Linked DNA regions of Homo sapiens: region 2 is linked to region 1. A link means that fine-mapping ties the variant in region 1 to the expression of a gene that starts in the linked region. Tissue or cell type: cerebellar hemisphere. Region 1 holds a variant in brackets; the other region holds the start of a gene. All regions are shown on one strand. Distances are between the middles of the regions.

The links. PIP is the estimated chance that this variant, and not a neighbour inherited with it, causes the effect.
Region 2: it holds the start of CRIM1, and the variant in region 1 is fine-mapped to the expression of CRIM1 in cerebellar hemisphere (GTEx, PIP above 0.99).

Annotation. Positions count from the first base shown.
Region 1 is chr2:36,580,229-36,588,492 of GRCh38, reverse strand. FEZ2 (fasciculation and elongation protein zeta 2) reads left to right here. Exons shown (of 8, transcript NM_005102.3): 3 at 5,024-5,140; 4 at 7,062-7,203. Among named protein-coding and RNA genes, the nearest start is that of FEZ2, 14 kb to the left of the region's middle. The variant A/G (reference allele first, on the strand shown) is at 5,050.
Region 2 is chr2:36,352,211-36,360,210 of GRCh38, reverse strand. CRIM1 (cysteine rich transmembrane BMP regulator 1) reads right to left here and starts at 4,433. Exons shown (of 17, transcript NM_016441.3): 1 at 3,588-4,433. The coding sequence starts at 3,918. CRIM1-DT (CRIM1 divergent transcript) reads left to right here and starts at 4,641. Exons shown (of 2, transcript NR_037631.1): 1 at 4,641-5,123; 2 at 5,230-5,462.

The DNA of each region.
Region 1 (8,264 bases):
GACTGCTGTATGTCTTGTATTGTTCTTAGATTGCATCTTGGGAGGTTGCTCCCTTTTGCTGCCTTTTGAATGTTATTTTCAATGCCACGGTAATGATATGGCCAAGGCAGTGATTAGTAATGACGTAGAGTTTAATGCTAGTACTGACATTAAAAAGCCTTACCTGGCTGGGCGCGGTGGCTCATGCCTGTAATCCCAGCACTTTGGGAGGCTGAGGTGGATGGATCACCTAAGGTCAGGAGTTTGAGACCAGCCTTACCAACACGGTGAAACCCCGTCTCTACTAAAAATACAAAATTAGCCAGGCGTGGTGGCGCATGCCTGTAATCCCAGATACTTGGGAGGCTGAGGCAGGAGAATTGCTTGAACCTGGGAGGCAGAGGTTGCAGTGCGCCGAGATCACGCCACTGCACTCCAGCCTGGGTGACAGAGCGAGACTCTGTCTCAAAAAATAAAAAAAAAAACAGCCTTACCTGGAAAAACTCAGCAGATGAAAGTGAACACGTGATCATTCACCTATCATCTCTCTGTTGTGACATGACTATTCTGGTGATGAATAGAATTGAAATCAGAACTCTGTTTCTCAGGGAGGATTAGCACACACTGAGTTTCTGAAAAACAAATGGGCAATAAGGACTATGTAAGAAGTCATCACGTCATTCTATTACATGGTATATAATTAAGCATTTTTTTTTTAATCTGGCAAAGTGACTGTATTTACCATTGCCACCTGGTGCTCTGTTCGTGCCGTGACTAAGCTATGTAAAATTTACCCTTTGAAAGCATTCTTTAGATTATTTTACTTATAAAACCAAGTGTATAGAAATTTTTTTTGACAAAAGAAGAATGGTTTTTGCATTAAAAAGAGAAAAACATTCAGGAAAACTAGTTTGCTAGATTGCAGTTTTAAATTTTTCTTTGATTGAAGATTAAGATGGCACACTTCTAAATTTGATATGTCTTTTTTAGAGTAAGGCAACTGGTATCTTTCAAATTCTTACGTGGGCACATTTTTTCCATTTGATGTATCTTCAGTTTTATACAGGGAAACAGTACCACCAGGTCTGTATCTAACCCTGGCATTGGAAGGAGTGATGGGAATGCTTGGCAAAGAGAAGGCACATTTAATGCTGAAGGGAGGAGTGAATAATGATACCCATGACAGCCAGGGCTAGTTTGCAAAGCCTGAAAGATATTCCAGCTCTTAGCATATGCCATCTCTGTGGGGAATGGACTTGGCTCTCTCTCTGGAAAGATGATCTGGGATCATTTCTGTTGTCATGGAAATTTATTATAATAGTTTACTGTTATTACTCATGTGTTTTGGCCATAACCCTATTCTAAATCTGGTGCCATTCTTGAATATACTTATATGATAGAATGCTTATCATTCATTTCAGCTTAAGAACATCTTCTGTGCTGTATTTCTCCTTCCATGTGCATTTCTTTCAGGACAGGGACTTTTGTATGCATCTTTATACCTTTAAGAGTAGAAATAAGAAAAAGATAATGTCTTCCACAGAAGCAATTTGATTGATTGATAGATTGAGAGAGTGTCTCCCTCTGTTGCCCAGGCTGGAGTACAGTGGCGCCATCATAGCTTACTGCAGCCTCCAACTCCTGGGCTTAAGCGATCTTCCCGCTCCAGCTTCCTGAGTAGCTAGACTACACACGAGTACCGCCATGCCTGGCTAATTTTAAGAAAATATATTTCTGTAGAGACGAGGTCTTCCTGTGTTGCTCAGGGTGGTCTTGATGTCCTGACCTCAGGAGATCCTCCCACCTTGGCCTCCCAAAGTGTTGGGATTACAGGTGTGAGCCATGGCAACCTGGGCTTCCTTAGGAGTAATTTTTTTTTTTTTTTTTGAGACATGGTCTGGCTCTGTTGTCCAGGCTGGAGCGCAGTGGCACCATCTTGGCTCACTGCAACCTCCACCTCCTGGGCTCAAGTGATCCTCCCACCTCAGCCTCCTGAATAGCTGGGACTACAGGCATGTGCCATCATGCCTGGCTAATTTTTTGTAGCAATGGGGTTTCACCATGTTTCCCAGGCTGTTCTCAAACTCCTGAGCTCAAGCAATCCACCCGCCTCAGCCTCCCAAAGTGCTGGGATTACAGGCATGAGCCACTGTGCCCACCCCGGATTAATTTTAAAATTAAAACTTTTAGTATTTATAAGCCAGAAGGGGAAAAATAAAACAAAATCATGGTCCTCAAGTTGCAACATAGGAAGAGTGATTGGGAAGGGGGTGTGAAGTGTTCGAAGTGTAAGGATCGATGAAACTAATCGGTAGGTCTACTCCATGGTATCGACATGCCTTTGTGATCACAGTGTGCCACATTTTCATCTTCTACAGTATAGAAATCATACATCCCCTCTCATCAAGAGCCTAGTCTCTTGATCTTTCTCCTTCTTTAAAAAATTAAATTATTAAAGGAACAGCTGTCATAGTTTAAAAAGTAAATTAGAACTATAGGACTTAAATGAAAAGGCAGTCTCTGCTCCACTTGATTTCTCCTTACCAGAGGTGGCCACTTTAAATGATATCAGCTATTTCTTTTAGCAGATAACATGCTCATGCCATTTTACTTGATATTATTTTCTCAATTTTAGACTTTATTTATTTTCTACCCAGAGGGTGAAGGTTTAGCTCTCTTCTGTCCTTTGCCAATCCCTGACACTATACCCTCCCAAAAACTTCCCTTTCCCCATCTTCCCAATGTAATTACATAACATCTGGGGTTGAATTAATCTTCATCATTTATATTTACTATTTAAATGTGCACAGTTGACCCATTATGATATATTATGTTTACATTTTCTCTTTTTCTACTTAGGTTTTTTCTTAGGATACTACCTGCCTTTTTGTGGTTTATTTAGTTTATAATTAGCTGACCAGTTCAGCCTCAATAGAGCCGTAGAACTCATTTTAGTAAATGGACCGCACTAGGTAATCTATCTAGTCCTTCTGCTCTCCCTCCCCACCCACCTCTCCCTCTTCTCCATGCTCTCTGCAATAAAAATTCTAATCTGAATGTTACTCTCTAGTGTAGCTTTACAGTCATCATTCTGGGATTTTCACTTTACTATCATTACGAGAATTCTCTTTGTCACTTGTTATTAGACCACATATCTTTTTTCTTTTTCATTTTCCTCCTGGTAGCTTTTTGAGAAAGGGCACATGAGAGGTAAATTTTTTCAGAACTTGTATGTCTGAAAATGTCTTTATCCTAGCCCCTGCCTACTTGTTTTAGCTGGATATAGGATTCTAGGATGGAATTTCTCCAAACATGGAAGTTACATCGATTATTTTCTAGCATCTATTGTTGCTATTGAGAATTCACTTGACATTTTGATTCCTGATCCTTTTAATGTGATTTTTTTTTCCCTCCCTGGAAGCTTTTAGATTCTCCTTTTTTCCACACAGTGTTCTTAGTTCATGATGCTGTGTTGAAGGTCATGGCCAGGCCTTTGCTAGGCTGATGGTGCAGTAAGAAATAAAATGAGAAGGGCTGTCGTCACTGCGCAGGAGCCTGGAGTTGCATTATAGGGTTGTAGGTGGACCGTGCAGTGTTGATGGGGCCCTTCTCCCAGCCTAATGTTGGAAAGTCAGTGTGCCAGTGCTTCTTCCCTTGGCCCTTCTCACGTGCAGGTTTCTTACTCTGTAGGCTGTGTTCACCTGCAAACTTCAGATGCTCATGTTATGAAGAACTAGGGAAGCAGTAGGAACCTACATCCATTCCATTGTGTCCTCAGCTTTAGACATATATCCTCTGCATGGATAAATAATTTTGCCAGGTAAAATTTTATCATGTTAGTTCTACACTATGTAATAGAATGACATGGTGGCTTCTTACGTAATCCTTGTTGCCCATTTATTCTTTGGAAACTCAGTGTGTGCTAATCCTTCCTGAGGAATAGAGTTCTAGTTTCAGTTCCATTCAACACCTGAATAGTCATGTCATGACAGATAGGTAGATGATAGACAGATGTTCCCTTGTTCATTTTAATCTGCTGAGTTTTTTCAGGCAAAGTTTTTACAATCAGTACTGGTACTAAACTCTAAGGCTGTTTATATTGGTGTGGGCAGGGTTAAGGGAAACAAACTTGATGTGGTGCAATCCCCCAGGGCTGGCAACAGAAACTGGTACTTTAGCAGTCCTGGGCATGAAGAGGTAAGGAGAGGGAGAAATTACCATAAACTGTTGAGATTGGCCTTGTGGGAGAAGTCTGCTAATCAGAGCTATGGCTTTGGTGAAGAGCCATAGTCAACAAATGACAGTCTGACAGGGAGGAAGACAGCAAAATACATGCCCAGCCTTCACCATCCCACCTTCCAGTCTGCCAGTGTCTGCCAATGGGGTTTAACCCACCTGGAAGCCAGACAGCAAGGGCATCCTTTGATGTCTTCCATAAAGGTCGTCCTCCTGGAGCGCAGAGCAGGGTGGAAGATGGTGAGGAGGTGAGTGGTGAATCACCAGCTTAGTTAGGTTTAAAGATGTTTTTGGAACCTAGGGTTATTATTTTTTGTTAAGAAGGAATGTGCAATTGGAAGGGCTAAGTGTGACGCTCATGGACAGATCCCGCCTTTCAGGGAGTTGATCATCTTTTACTCAGATATTAGAAGTTAGTTTGCAAGTAACTAACTTTTATGTTTTCTTTAGAATGTTAACGTCTACCAATCTTAGTGTGTGTTGCTAACCCTGCCCATATTCTCCCTTCTATTCACTGTAATTCCCTATGACTTGCTAATGAATACCGTATTTTTTTCTGCATATCTGTCAGCTTTTATAGCAGTCTTATGCAGCATCTCAGTGATTTCATATTTATTCTACATTCTTCTCATTTCTGTTCAAGATGAATATATACTCATTGCCTGGTACAGAGTGATTGTAATAATTTCTCCCTCTTGAGGGAAGGCTCTTAGTAGTTGCTTTTCTCTGCAGCCTCTTTTACTCAGAGCTGTTAACTTTGTTTTGATGAGGATGTCCTGCTTTTAATGATGGGTATTTTTGTTTTTAGGTAAGTGACAGTTTGCTCTTTGATAC[A/G]TCAGATGATGAAGAGCTGAGAGAACAGCTGGATATGCACTCAATCATCGTCTCCTGTGTTAATGATGAACCCCTCTTCACGGCAGACCAGGTATAGAGGAGATCCTCAGCAACGCAAGGAAAGGAGACTCTAGAGCTGAAAAACGGCTTCTTGTTATGACAGTAAATGATGGCTGTTGGTTTACTTATCTTTCCTATTTTTTTCTGGTTATACAGGCTTAATAGTTAACTCTTCCACAGAGAAAAATAAGTATTTGTGATCTGAAGCAGAAGGGATTATGTTAGTTGGGAAGGTTTCCAACAGAGGCCTTGTTGAAGATTATAGCAAGGTACCAAGGAAAGGTTGTTGCTTAACCCCAAACCAGAAAAATATTGTGAATTTCCTTGTTTCTTTAGATTTACCCAAACACGGACAAACTGTAAAGTATCTGTGTAGAAATTATTTAGTATCTTCAAAACCCTGGGTAAAAAGCATTAGCATGTATTAAAGTAACATATTGTGTGCCCCAGAAAGAAGTGAGCATTATTCCCGTGGAATGCGCTAATAAGGTCAACCCTGTATTCACTTAAAACCAGTCGAATCAGCTTTCTCATTTTCTGAATACTCTTCCCACCTCTGTTGTATTGTTGAAATGTGATGCCAGAACTTCTTCCTGAAATAAAATGTTCCATGGCTACTCGGACTGTGAGTTCTACCACACTCTATTTTTAGGCTGGAAAGATGAGATCAGTAAGGAGATACATTATGGCAAGCTTGGGAGGAGTACATTAAAAATTTACATTAAAATTGTGTTATTTGGATCCTCCTTAGTCATATTTGTGGTTGAATTGTTCTAGGCGTGGGAAGAATGTGGTGCTTAAAAAAGCAAGGTAATAGTAGGTTGGAAGGTTGTTTTGAGGTAGAGGGTAATCTAGGGATAGACATGACCTTGAGAATTCATTGTCCCCTCACTGACCTGCCTAATACCGTAAACTCTCCCTTTTTTTAAGAGTTAGAATAACAGATTCTGTAGGATCCTTGAGTGGCTCATTGTACCTTATTATATTTCCTGTTTTGGAGACTCTTCTTATAATTAACATAATCCCATCTCCTTCAGATTTGCCTTTGTTTTTCCTTGGTGGAAATCTTACCTGTTAAGCTTGTTAATTCATAAAGCATGGAAATATGCTCATGATGTCTTACTCCTTCATTTAATTGTGTTTAATTTTTTTTTTTAACTTTAGGTCCTTTTTTCTAACTATTGAGTAATTTTCCTGGGTTTCCTTTACATTTTCGCTGAGTTCTATATCCTTCTCAACTTTTAGAATCTGGAAAAGGGCAAGATACTGTTGTAAGATTTGAGCAGCACTGCACTAGACAGTAGATCATTGTTTAAAGTCAAATGTATTTCTGAAGTTTTTCTGCTTTTCACAGCATTTTTCTCTTTGGACTTCTACTTTTTGAGTAATTTAAAAAATCCCTTTTTTTCGTTGAATTAATATATAAAATTATTTTTCTGCTGTTGAAAGAATATTTTGCTGTCATAGAGGTAATTTCCCATTTATATATACTTTTTTTGTGCTATTGTATTTTATAAATTTTATGTCAGAATTTTTGATGAGATACCTTTAAATTGAGCACTTGTATGTCTATGGTAAATTTTCTGTTATTTGCTTTCTTCTAACGATTACTGTATGATCTAGCTCTGGTGTGTCTGAAGTAAATTATTATGTGTTTGTAGCACGATTACCTAGACTTTGCAAGACATGTTAGGGCCTTCTGAATCATGATGGACGTAGTAAATCCAATTCTATTTAGGTTTGTGTTTAGTATATTGTAATTTTTTCTTGATAAACCATGTTCACTCCTACAGTAAAAATTTTGATTATTTGGAGCATCCACACCTGAACACCATTGGTTAATGGAGAATTCAGTGCATTTCTGCTCTGGGTGCCTTAGGTGAGCACTGTGTTCCAGATAGATCATTTTCCTTTTGTATATTTGATTAACAGTGGTGTGTGTGTTTTCGAAGGTTATTGAAGAAATTGAAGAAATGATGCAGGAATCACCGGACCCAGAAGATGATGAAACCCCTACACAGTCAGATCGGCTTTCAATGCTTTCCCAGGAAATTCAAACTCTCAAGAGGTCTAGTACCGGCAGTTATGAAGAGAGTAAGGGAGCCTGCTGAAATCAATGATTTCTGTGCTTTTTGTCTGTATCAAATGTATAGTATGATCATCTCCAGAAAGCTTTGATTTCATCCTCCTTCTGTTTGTGTTTGTGTCCAAATTTACATTTTTGTTGTTGTTGTTGAGACGGGATTTCACTTTTTGGCCCAAGCTGGAATGAAGTGGCATGATTTCAGCTCACTGCAACCTGTGCCTCCCGGGTTCAAGCAATTCTGCCTCAGCCTCCCAAGTAGCTAGGATTACAGGTGCCCGCCACCACGCCTGGCTAATTTTTACATTTTTAGTAGAGACGGGGTTTCGTCATGTTGGCCAGGCTGGTCTCGAACTCCTGACCTCATGATCCGCCCGCCTTAGCCTCCCAAAGTGCTGCAGTTACAGGCGTGAGCCACCATTGCCTGGCCCCAAATTTCCTCTTACAAGGACAGCAATCATATTGGATTAGGGTCTATCCTAATGACCTTATTTTAATGTAATTACCTCTTTAAAGACCATATACTGTAACATTCTGAGGTACTTGGGGTTAGGACTTCAACACATGAATTTTGGGGAGGACACAATTGAGTCTATAAGAAACCCCATCATATTTGAAGTGTAGAATAGATATTCAGTAATTATTTGTCAAATGCAATTCCTGTTTGTACAAATAGTCTTGTGTGTTACTATGAAGAATTTTGGGAACCATGGATCTGTTTGACATATGTGAGAATAATGAACTCTAGAAACTCTACAGTTGATTTTCATGAAAAATGTCTGAATAAATATAACCAGCCTGTGAACAGCCTGAGGCTGGTTGGAAGGTGTGTATCTAATCATTGCCATATGACTGGTCCCTTCCTTGAATAGGCACTGATGGGGTCTGTATCTGCTCAACTCGTGTTGTCACCTAGTTTTATCTTTATGGCATGCCCAGTCCAAAGCTTAGTTACCTAAAGACCTTTGGGTTGTATGGCTTCAACATACAGATGGTCAGACAGACCAAATTCTTTCAGATGGTCTGATTTGGCCATGTTCCTGTAGGTATGGGCTAAACAGTGTTAACGTCC
Region 2 (8,000 bases), 230 kb after region 1:
CTGGTCATGCTCTCTCACCTTGCCTCACTCCTTATAGAAGCATAAAGCGCTATGACACATGGGAGAAGAAATGGCTCTCAACCCCTTAGCTCAAAACATAATTCTCACTGTCCAATCAAAATCTTCTTTCTAGAAAATCTCACTTCATTAATTTTTCTAAACTCTGCCTTCGATCCTCCAAAGATGTCTTCCATCCAGATTTCTTTCTCAGGGGTTCAGGATCCACACTTGTTTCTCTGGCTTCTAGGTGATTTTCCTGGAGGCAGGCAGCCTGGCCAAGAAAACAGGCCAGTTAGGATGCTGCAAAGAGCAACAGGAGGTCTTAGCAGACGAATGGAAAGAGGAAAAAGACCTGCACTCTCCTAAGTTCCAAAAAGCACTTTCTAGACTGACAGAAAGTAGGAAAAACTTTTAGGTATCAGGCTCCATGCTCATTTTTTCAAATGCACTTACCACCCCCAGCCCCCACCACAAAAGGAATAATTCAATTAGAATTTATTTAATAACAATCTAAACAATGCGGAAAAGAAATCCAAGTGCACATCTCACATGGTGCACAGGACACAACTCATCACATTATTTAATCATTCAGAAAATATTTTTTTTCCTTCAGCATTCTTTCTATGGATAGGATTGTTCTTCCGTTTGTTCAATGTACTTTTACTGAGAGCCAACTAGACCAGCATGCCTTAAAAACCTAAGGCTGTGAGCCACAAGCTGAAAGGGGCCCATTTCTGCCCATGATTTATCTAACTCATTTTGTGAACTGCAGTTAAAAACGTAATTTTTTTCCCCTACAAAGCCAGTATGAGAGTAAACACTGCTAAAAATTACTGCAAGTTGGCAAACAGAGAATATAATTTGTATTTAAATTATGTCATCGAAAGCAGGGAGATTAGTCATGATAATATTTCTATAACATGCAATATGTTTTTACAACGTAGCCAATTAAATAAGTTTTCAAGAGTTTTCATTAACAGATACAACCAGTAGGGGTCATTTTAGTGCAAAAATTGCAGCAAAAGAGACTTCAACATGAATAAAATATATTGATTCCTATTCATGTTAGTTATGATAACCATGCTTCACCACGTGAATTTCTGAATAAAAATGGAAACTGAGGGAAACACTGGCCATTCCGAAATTTCTTGTAAACTCACAGAAAAACAAGAGATAATCAATACCTTCTAGGTAACTGCTGACATCTGAAGGCTCCTCTAATTCTTTTTTTAAAAATGGCAGGCGGGGGGCGGTTGGGGTATCACTTATCCCATGCTTTCCATAAATCTTGTCGTTAAGTGAAAACACTGAAATTGTAAACACACGATTGAAAATATCTGTCTAAATCCAACCATTATATCATGCCAGGTAACACTGTCCTTACTTTGGTTTCACAGATTTAGAATGCAAGTTGACTGCTGTTTTCAGTATTTTTTTTTTTAAAGGAAGTGCCCTGGACACACAATATTGATAGTTGAAAACAGGCCTGTAAAATAAAAAGTGTTTCTAGAGAAACTAATTGAGATATAATCATGTCAACAAACCCTTCCAAGCATTTCAAAGCGAATACCAAGCACACAGGGTGTTGCCAGAAAAAAGGAAGCTATGAGGGATCACATCATTTCAGAGGAATGAAAGGCTCACGAAACTGCCAAAATAACTCTATACTGTGACATGGGATATTGCTGCCACAACACTCGATTACTGTAAATGTTCCCTGAGCACTTCCTTCACCAGAAACAGACTAAGAAGAAACAAAACAAGGGTTAGAATCTTCAGAACCTGCAAAAGTCCTTCTTGGAACACAGCAGTTTCCACTGCATTTAACTGTGTTTCATGTCGCCTGTTCTTTTCAGATTTACGAGAGGCCGGATTAAGTTATACACTTGAAGCGGCAGGGTTCAAAGATGCATCTTTTAGTCTAGGTCATTCAGAATTCCCAAAGTCAAAACACATACAATGGTATCAGAAGTTAATCTCATGGCCATTTTTCTTGAGGTAAGGCATAAAAACAAGTTATAAAAGGGGACAATACCAGGTGAGAGGCTTTTTTGTACTTCAGGCAAATGATCTCTTCTAACCCAATGTCTTACGTGTGCAGCAAAGCAAGAGCAAGTCCCTCCCCTCTGAGAAGAGTTCCCTTCACTCATCACTGCCCACTAGCTTCCAAACCAGAAAACCCTCCCCTATTTTCCTGAACTGTCCAAACCCCAAACTATTCAGGTATAAATAAGTACCTATGTGTGTGTCTGTGCGTATTTAGAGAGAATCACAGCACTGAAGCCTTTTAATAGGTCCATTGTTATCCTTAAGGCTGTCACCTCCTTTTTCAGTATCCCAGCATACTAAACAAACACACACAAAGATGCTTCGGAATAAACCGTTCCCTGGACGGTGCTGGCTGTGAGTAGTGAGGAAGGCACGCCGGGCAGAGGGCGCCTGTCCCTCCTCGCCGCCTCCCCAGAAACGAGGCTGCTGCGTGCGCTCTGCTCACTCGCCAGGATGCCCCCGGAACAGCATCATCAGCCCAACGTCAGCCAGAGCAGGGATCCCACTTTTAACTGATGCTTACCGAACCGTGCCCCCGTTAGCCACATCAAAATAACTCACTGCCTCGCTCTAGACCCCAAACCAGACCAGGCACCCTGAAGGCCGACGCAAGCGGGCAGGGATTAAAGCCAACACGCACTAACATTGGCTCCCCAACGAGAAAGACTCCACTAATCTAATCTGTTTCTCCCACCGTCAATCTCGACACCGCGGAGCACAATGCGTGCTGGAGAAGCCAGCAGAACAATCCCCGCTGTCAAACAAACAAAAAGGAGGAACCGGCAACACGACAGGAAACACGCGGGTATCTGATATTAAAAAGCAGCCACTAATAGCAACAACTTTTTACTCCCAGGTGCAACCCCCACCCCCCTTTCCTTTCAGGAGAGAAAGCCTTTGACCGTTTACAATGGGCAAATAAATGAGTAACCACCGTGTGTAACTTCCCCTGGGCTGACATATTCCGCGGCTGAAACTGATTTATCTGCGGAGGAGGAGGAAGGGGTGAAGGAAGAGCTCAAGGAAAAAATAATAAGAGTCACTCGGGGAGTGCGAGCTGGAGACACGTCTCCTCCGCCAACAGAAAAAGGACTTTCGCGGCCGGCGTGCGGCTCACGGTGCCACACTGCGCCAGTGCGGGGAGGGCGGTAGGGCCGGGCTCCCCGAGGGGCTCGCGCGCGGCAGAATCTGCAGTGCCCCCCGCCCGCGGCGCCCCCACCTCGGGGAGCAAGGCCGGGCCACCCAGTCCCAGCAGGAACGGCCACACGTGTGCGCGTCTGCGCGGGGACAGGGGCGATCCTCCACTCGCTCGCCCCCACCCACCATACCCAACCTCGCCCGCGACTGCCTAAGCGTCGGGGGGAACAAGGAGAGGGAACGCAGGGCCGCGGGGGCACTCTCCTGGGGGCGGCGGCCGCCCCTCTTCCCGCAGAGCCCTCTTTCCTCCAGAAAGTCTCGCCCAAACTTTGTTCGGCACAACCAGCGCCGAGGGGGCGGCGCAGGCCAGGTGGGAGGGGGCCCGCAGCGGGCGGCCGTACCTTCGCAAACGCCCGCTTCGTACTCGGTGAGGGAGTCGCCATTGAGCGGGGGGCGGATGACACAACGCAGCCCCCGGTCGCAGGTTCCGTAAATCCCGAAGGTGCCGCCGCAGCTCTCGTTCCTCTGGCTGGCGCACGTGTAGCAGCAGCCGCAGACGCCCTGCACGATGCTCCCCGGGCAGTTCCTGGGCTCCTCGCACTTGGACTCGTCACAGGGCAGGCAGACCAGCGCCCGGGTGCCGGAGCGCGCCAGCAGCAGCAGCAGCCCCAGCAGCGAGACCAGGAGGTGCCCGCAGCCGGCCAACCCCCTGTCCCCCGCCACCAAGTACATCCTCCTGCGCCGCCGCCGCCTCCTCCTCGCAGCCGGGCCGGGAGCGGGGCGGGCGCCCTCCCCTGCGCGGGGCACACGCGCCGCCGCCGCCGCACCAGCAGCCCGCGGTCCTCACCGCCCCTCTCGGGGCCCCCGGGGCGCGCCTCCCCTCGCGGGGCGAGGCCCCCGCCCCTTCTGCGGGCCGCGCCGACCCCGAGCCCACGAGCCTTGGCGCCGGCGGCAGCTTCCCCTCCTCCTCCTCCTCCTCCTCCCGGGAGGGAGGGGGAAAAAAGAAAAAAGTTTCCTCCCGGCAGCTCCGGTTCAACCCAAACTTCTGGCGCGGCGGCGGCGGTGGCTGCTGCGCTCGGCTCCAGCCCGGGCCGGCGGCGCCTCCTCCCTCTCCTCCTCCGAGTCGGCCGGCCCCGCAGCGGCGCAGCCTCCGGGCCGGTCCCCGCCTCCCGAGCTGCCGAGTGGGCGCGGTGGCGCAGCACAAGATCCGCGGCGTCCGCTCCGCGCGCCCCGCTCGCCTCACTCCTGCGCCGCTCCTCCGGGCGCTTGTTTATGGCTGGAGCCTCAGCCGCTCGGGCTGCGCCCTCCCCCATCCTACCTCCTCCCCCAGACCTTCCCCCCACCCCCACGCGCCGCGCGCCGCTCATTGGCTGCCCCCCCTCCCCGGCCCGGCCGGCCCCCTCCGCCTCCCCCTCCCCCTCTCGGGCGGCCGGGCCCTTCCTCCCTCCCTCACACGCCTCCACCTCTTCCCGATCTCCTCCTCCCCGAGCCCGGCGCACCGAGCCGGCCGTGCCACCGAGCTGCGGCTCTGGCCCCGGCGCCGCGGGTGCGCTGCGGATGGGCTTGGGGCGCACCCAGCGAGCAGCGAGAGTCGCGGTGTCCCGGGCGCTCGCTGGCACCGTGGCCGCAGCGGCCGGCCTGGGAGCCAGGAGGGCGAGGCGGCTGCACCTTCGGGGCCAGATTGGAGTTCGAAGAGTGGCGGGTACCCCAGAAGCTCGGGGCCGGGGCGATGGCTGCAGCCTCGGGAGGGTATCGCCGGATCGAACTCCGGGAAAGGGAAGCAAAGGCATGGAACCTCCGCACACTGGATGAGAATCCATCTTCCATTCGAGCTGGGAATAGACTTTGTGAAAGATATTATGTAATGGAGTCTCGGGAACCCTGAGACCTCTCCAGCGAAGCTGAAGTGAATTAATTAAGTGCTTTAAACGGTCTTGGTAAATATTCCGCGGGAGCTGGGGAGGACCGTTGGGATGGCTGTAGCTTGAGTTGAATTTTAACTGTCCTCATTCTGGGTTTTGTCGCTCTGCTTTCTGTGCCAAGGTGCTGTGTTACGGGAGAGAGTGACTGGAAAGTAACAAAGCTGAATCTTTCTCCCTGGAGTAAGGCCGAAGACTGGATTACTACACGCCTAGACGTGACACTACACCCATAGATCTCATGCATCATTAATGCCATATGACATTGCCATTTTCTTTCTCAGTTCACGGACAAAAGTGGTGGGTTTTCATTGTCTTCACTGATTGTCAATGCATTAATAAAGAAGATGTGTGGTACATAGTCTTTGTGATAAATCAGGTAAAGAAGCAACGGAAGTGATGCAAAATGCACGGTGTGGAGATGGTTTCTCTTCAGTGGTTGTCAGAAAAGGTTTTCGTAATGATGGCTCTGTCATTGATGGGATATGAAGTAGTAATCCGCTCCGTAGTGACCTACCATTCACAAGATGGGTACCAGGTGAATAACATTAATTAATTGACAAAAAGTGACTGTGGTCAATGGGGGAAAAAATCGATCCCGTGGCAGGTGTGACGTGGGAATGGCTGGCCCACCCTCTGATCCAAGATGGTCTGGCTGCAGGAAGGTGGCAGCCAAGTGGATTCTGAAAATCGTGACTAATGAACCGAAAGTTAATAGCTGGCAGTGCAAGGAAAGAGGAAACAAAGCTACCTTTGAAATGTTATGTTTGTGGAACAAATTCATACTTACGATAAATATTTTAGTTTAACCACTCTGTCTAATCCTGAACCCAAAAGCCAGAGTTACCAGTGGACTATTCCCCCATGATGGGCATCAGCAAACTAAACATTTCTCCTATCATATTTCTTTGTCCAAGGAGAGGAAGAGGCTCATTAATTATCATTGATTATTATAGGGCCATGAGGAAGATGTTCAACCGTGGAAAAGGGGAGAGAGCATTGCATTTTCTAGACGGGTTTAAAGAGTTGTTGCAATGAAATGATTCCTGTAGTTGGGTGGGAAGTCCGATTAGATGATCTCCAAAGGCCCTCATACCCTGTGGGTCCATAATAAGTGTTAAGTGGCAAAATCGTTTAAAATATGCTAGGTTTTCTATTAGAAAAACCGAAGAGACTGGGCGTGGTGGCTCATGCCTATAATCCCAGCACTTTGGGAGGCCAAGGTGGGCAGATCACTTGAGGTAAGGAATTCGAGACCAGCCTGGCCAACATGGTGAAACATGGTGAAACCCTGTCTCTATCAAAAATACAAAAATTAGCCGGGTGTGGTAGCGCATGCCTGTAATCCCAGCTACTCAGGAGGCTGAGGCAGGAGAATCACTTGAACCCAGGAGGTGAAGGTTGCAGTGAGCCGAGATTGCGTCATTGCACTCCAGCCTGGGCGACAGAGCAAGACTCTGTCTCAAAAACAAACAAACAAAAAAACTGAAGAAAAATAAAACACACATTGTTAAACATTGTTCTTTCTTGTCACCGAACAAGGCACCAGCACTTCAGTGTGGGATTTGCCAACAAACTGTCATCATTGCTCTGTGTTAAAAGGTCCCTCCCACTCTTGCAGAGGAGGTTATCTGTATTTCTGTTCAAATGCAAGTATAAAGACATTAAAATGTAGCAGATAACATTGTAGGACCTGCAGGAAAAGCCAAGGTCAGGTGATGAGAAAAAGGCAGAAGTGAGAAAGCTACTGTGGTTAGGAAAGAAGGAGGTAATAAGCATTGTCAAAGTTTAGCTTCTATTTATTTTTAAGGGGATATATTAAGGATTAAGGAAAGCTACAGATGAGCACAGGCAAAGGATAATTTGGAGATGACTATTCATTGTTCCTGGGACTTCAGAAGTAGAACCACCTGGAAGGTAGATGGACAGATACAACATGAGAAAGGTTGACTTCTCACAGGAATTCAAGTCAGGTTTAGAAAGGACTAGGGAGATTCTTTAAGATGAAGATGATTGTATCAGCTCAAAAAGAAAAAAAAAATCAAGTTACATTACACATGCCCTTTGGCATAAAATTAATAGTCATAGAAGCAATAGAGAAAATAGGATTCCTTGAAGCCAGTGACTAGTGGCGAATGAGAAACCTGCAAGGTCCTGGCAGCTTTTCTGAAACCAGTGTGTGAATCAGGAGCTCAGTTATGAAACAGCTCTTTCTTCTCTGGGATCCAGGAGGGATGATAATGAGGTAGTGAGAAGCTGAGGCAATGATACTGAGGCTCGAATACAAAAGTATTTTCTTATCTTCAAAGACCAGACTATGGTTACAGAAAGAGTTTGGGTGAGCCCAACATGATGACAATCAGGTGTCACGGGTGAAAGTGGACTAGGAAGAATTACCCTGAAATTGAATGGACCCTGAAAGTCATGAACGAATGTTAAGAATTAGAGCCACACATGAAAGGCCTCCCTTTCTGAGAAGCCTTCTTGAGCTTCTTTATCTGTTCTACAGCATTTGTAAGTACCTCTGCTTGTAGCATTTATCATGTTACATTATAGTTATTTAAATAACTCTGAACCCAATTAGCTTGTCAGCTTATTGGAGAGGGCAGGATTTATAAAAATGCATGCATGAATGAGTTGAAAAAGGGAGAGTGAAGAATTACAGTCAAAATGATATTTGAATATTATTGTCTGCAGCCCTTCTCTCTTGGTTTTAGTAAATACCTCAAAATCAGTACTTGAAAGGGATGGTATGGGCAGGAGGGAGTCATCGAAGTTTGGGGTGGGGGTGGTGGGGGGGTGGGGGAGGGGTTGGGGAACAGGTCTGCAACGAACCAGGAATTACGAAGTATTTCTGATGGAGGTCTAGAAGAAGAGATCGTCTGCCCTCTATTG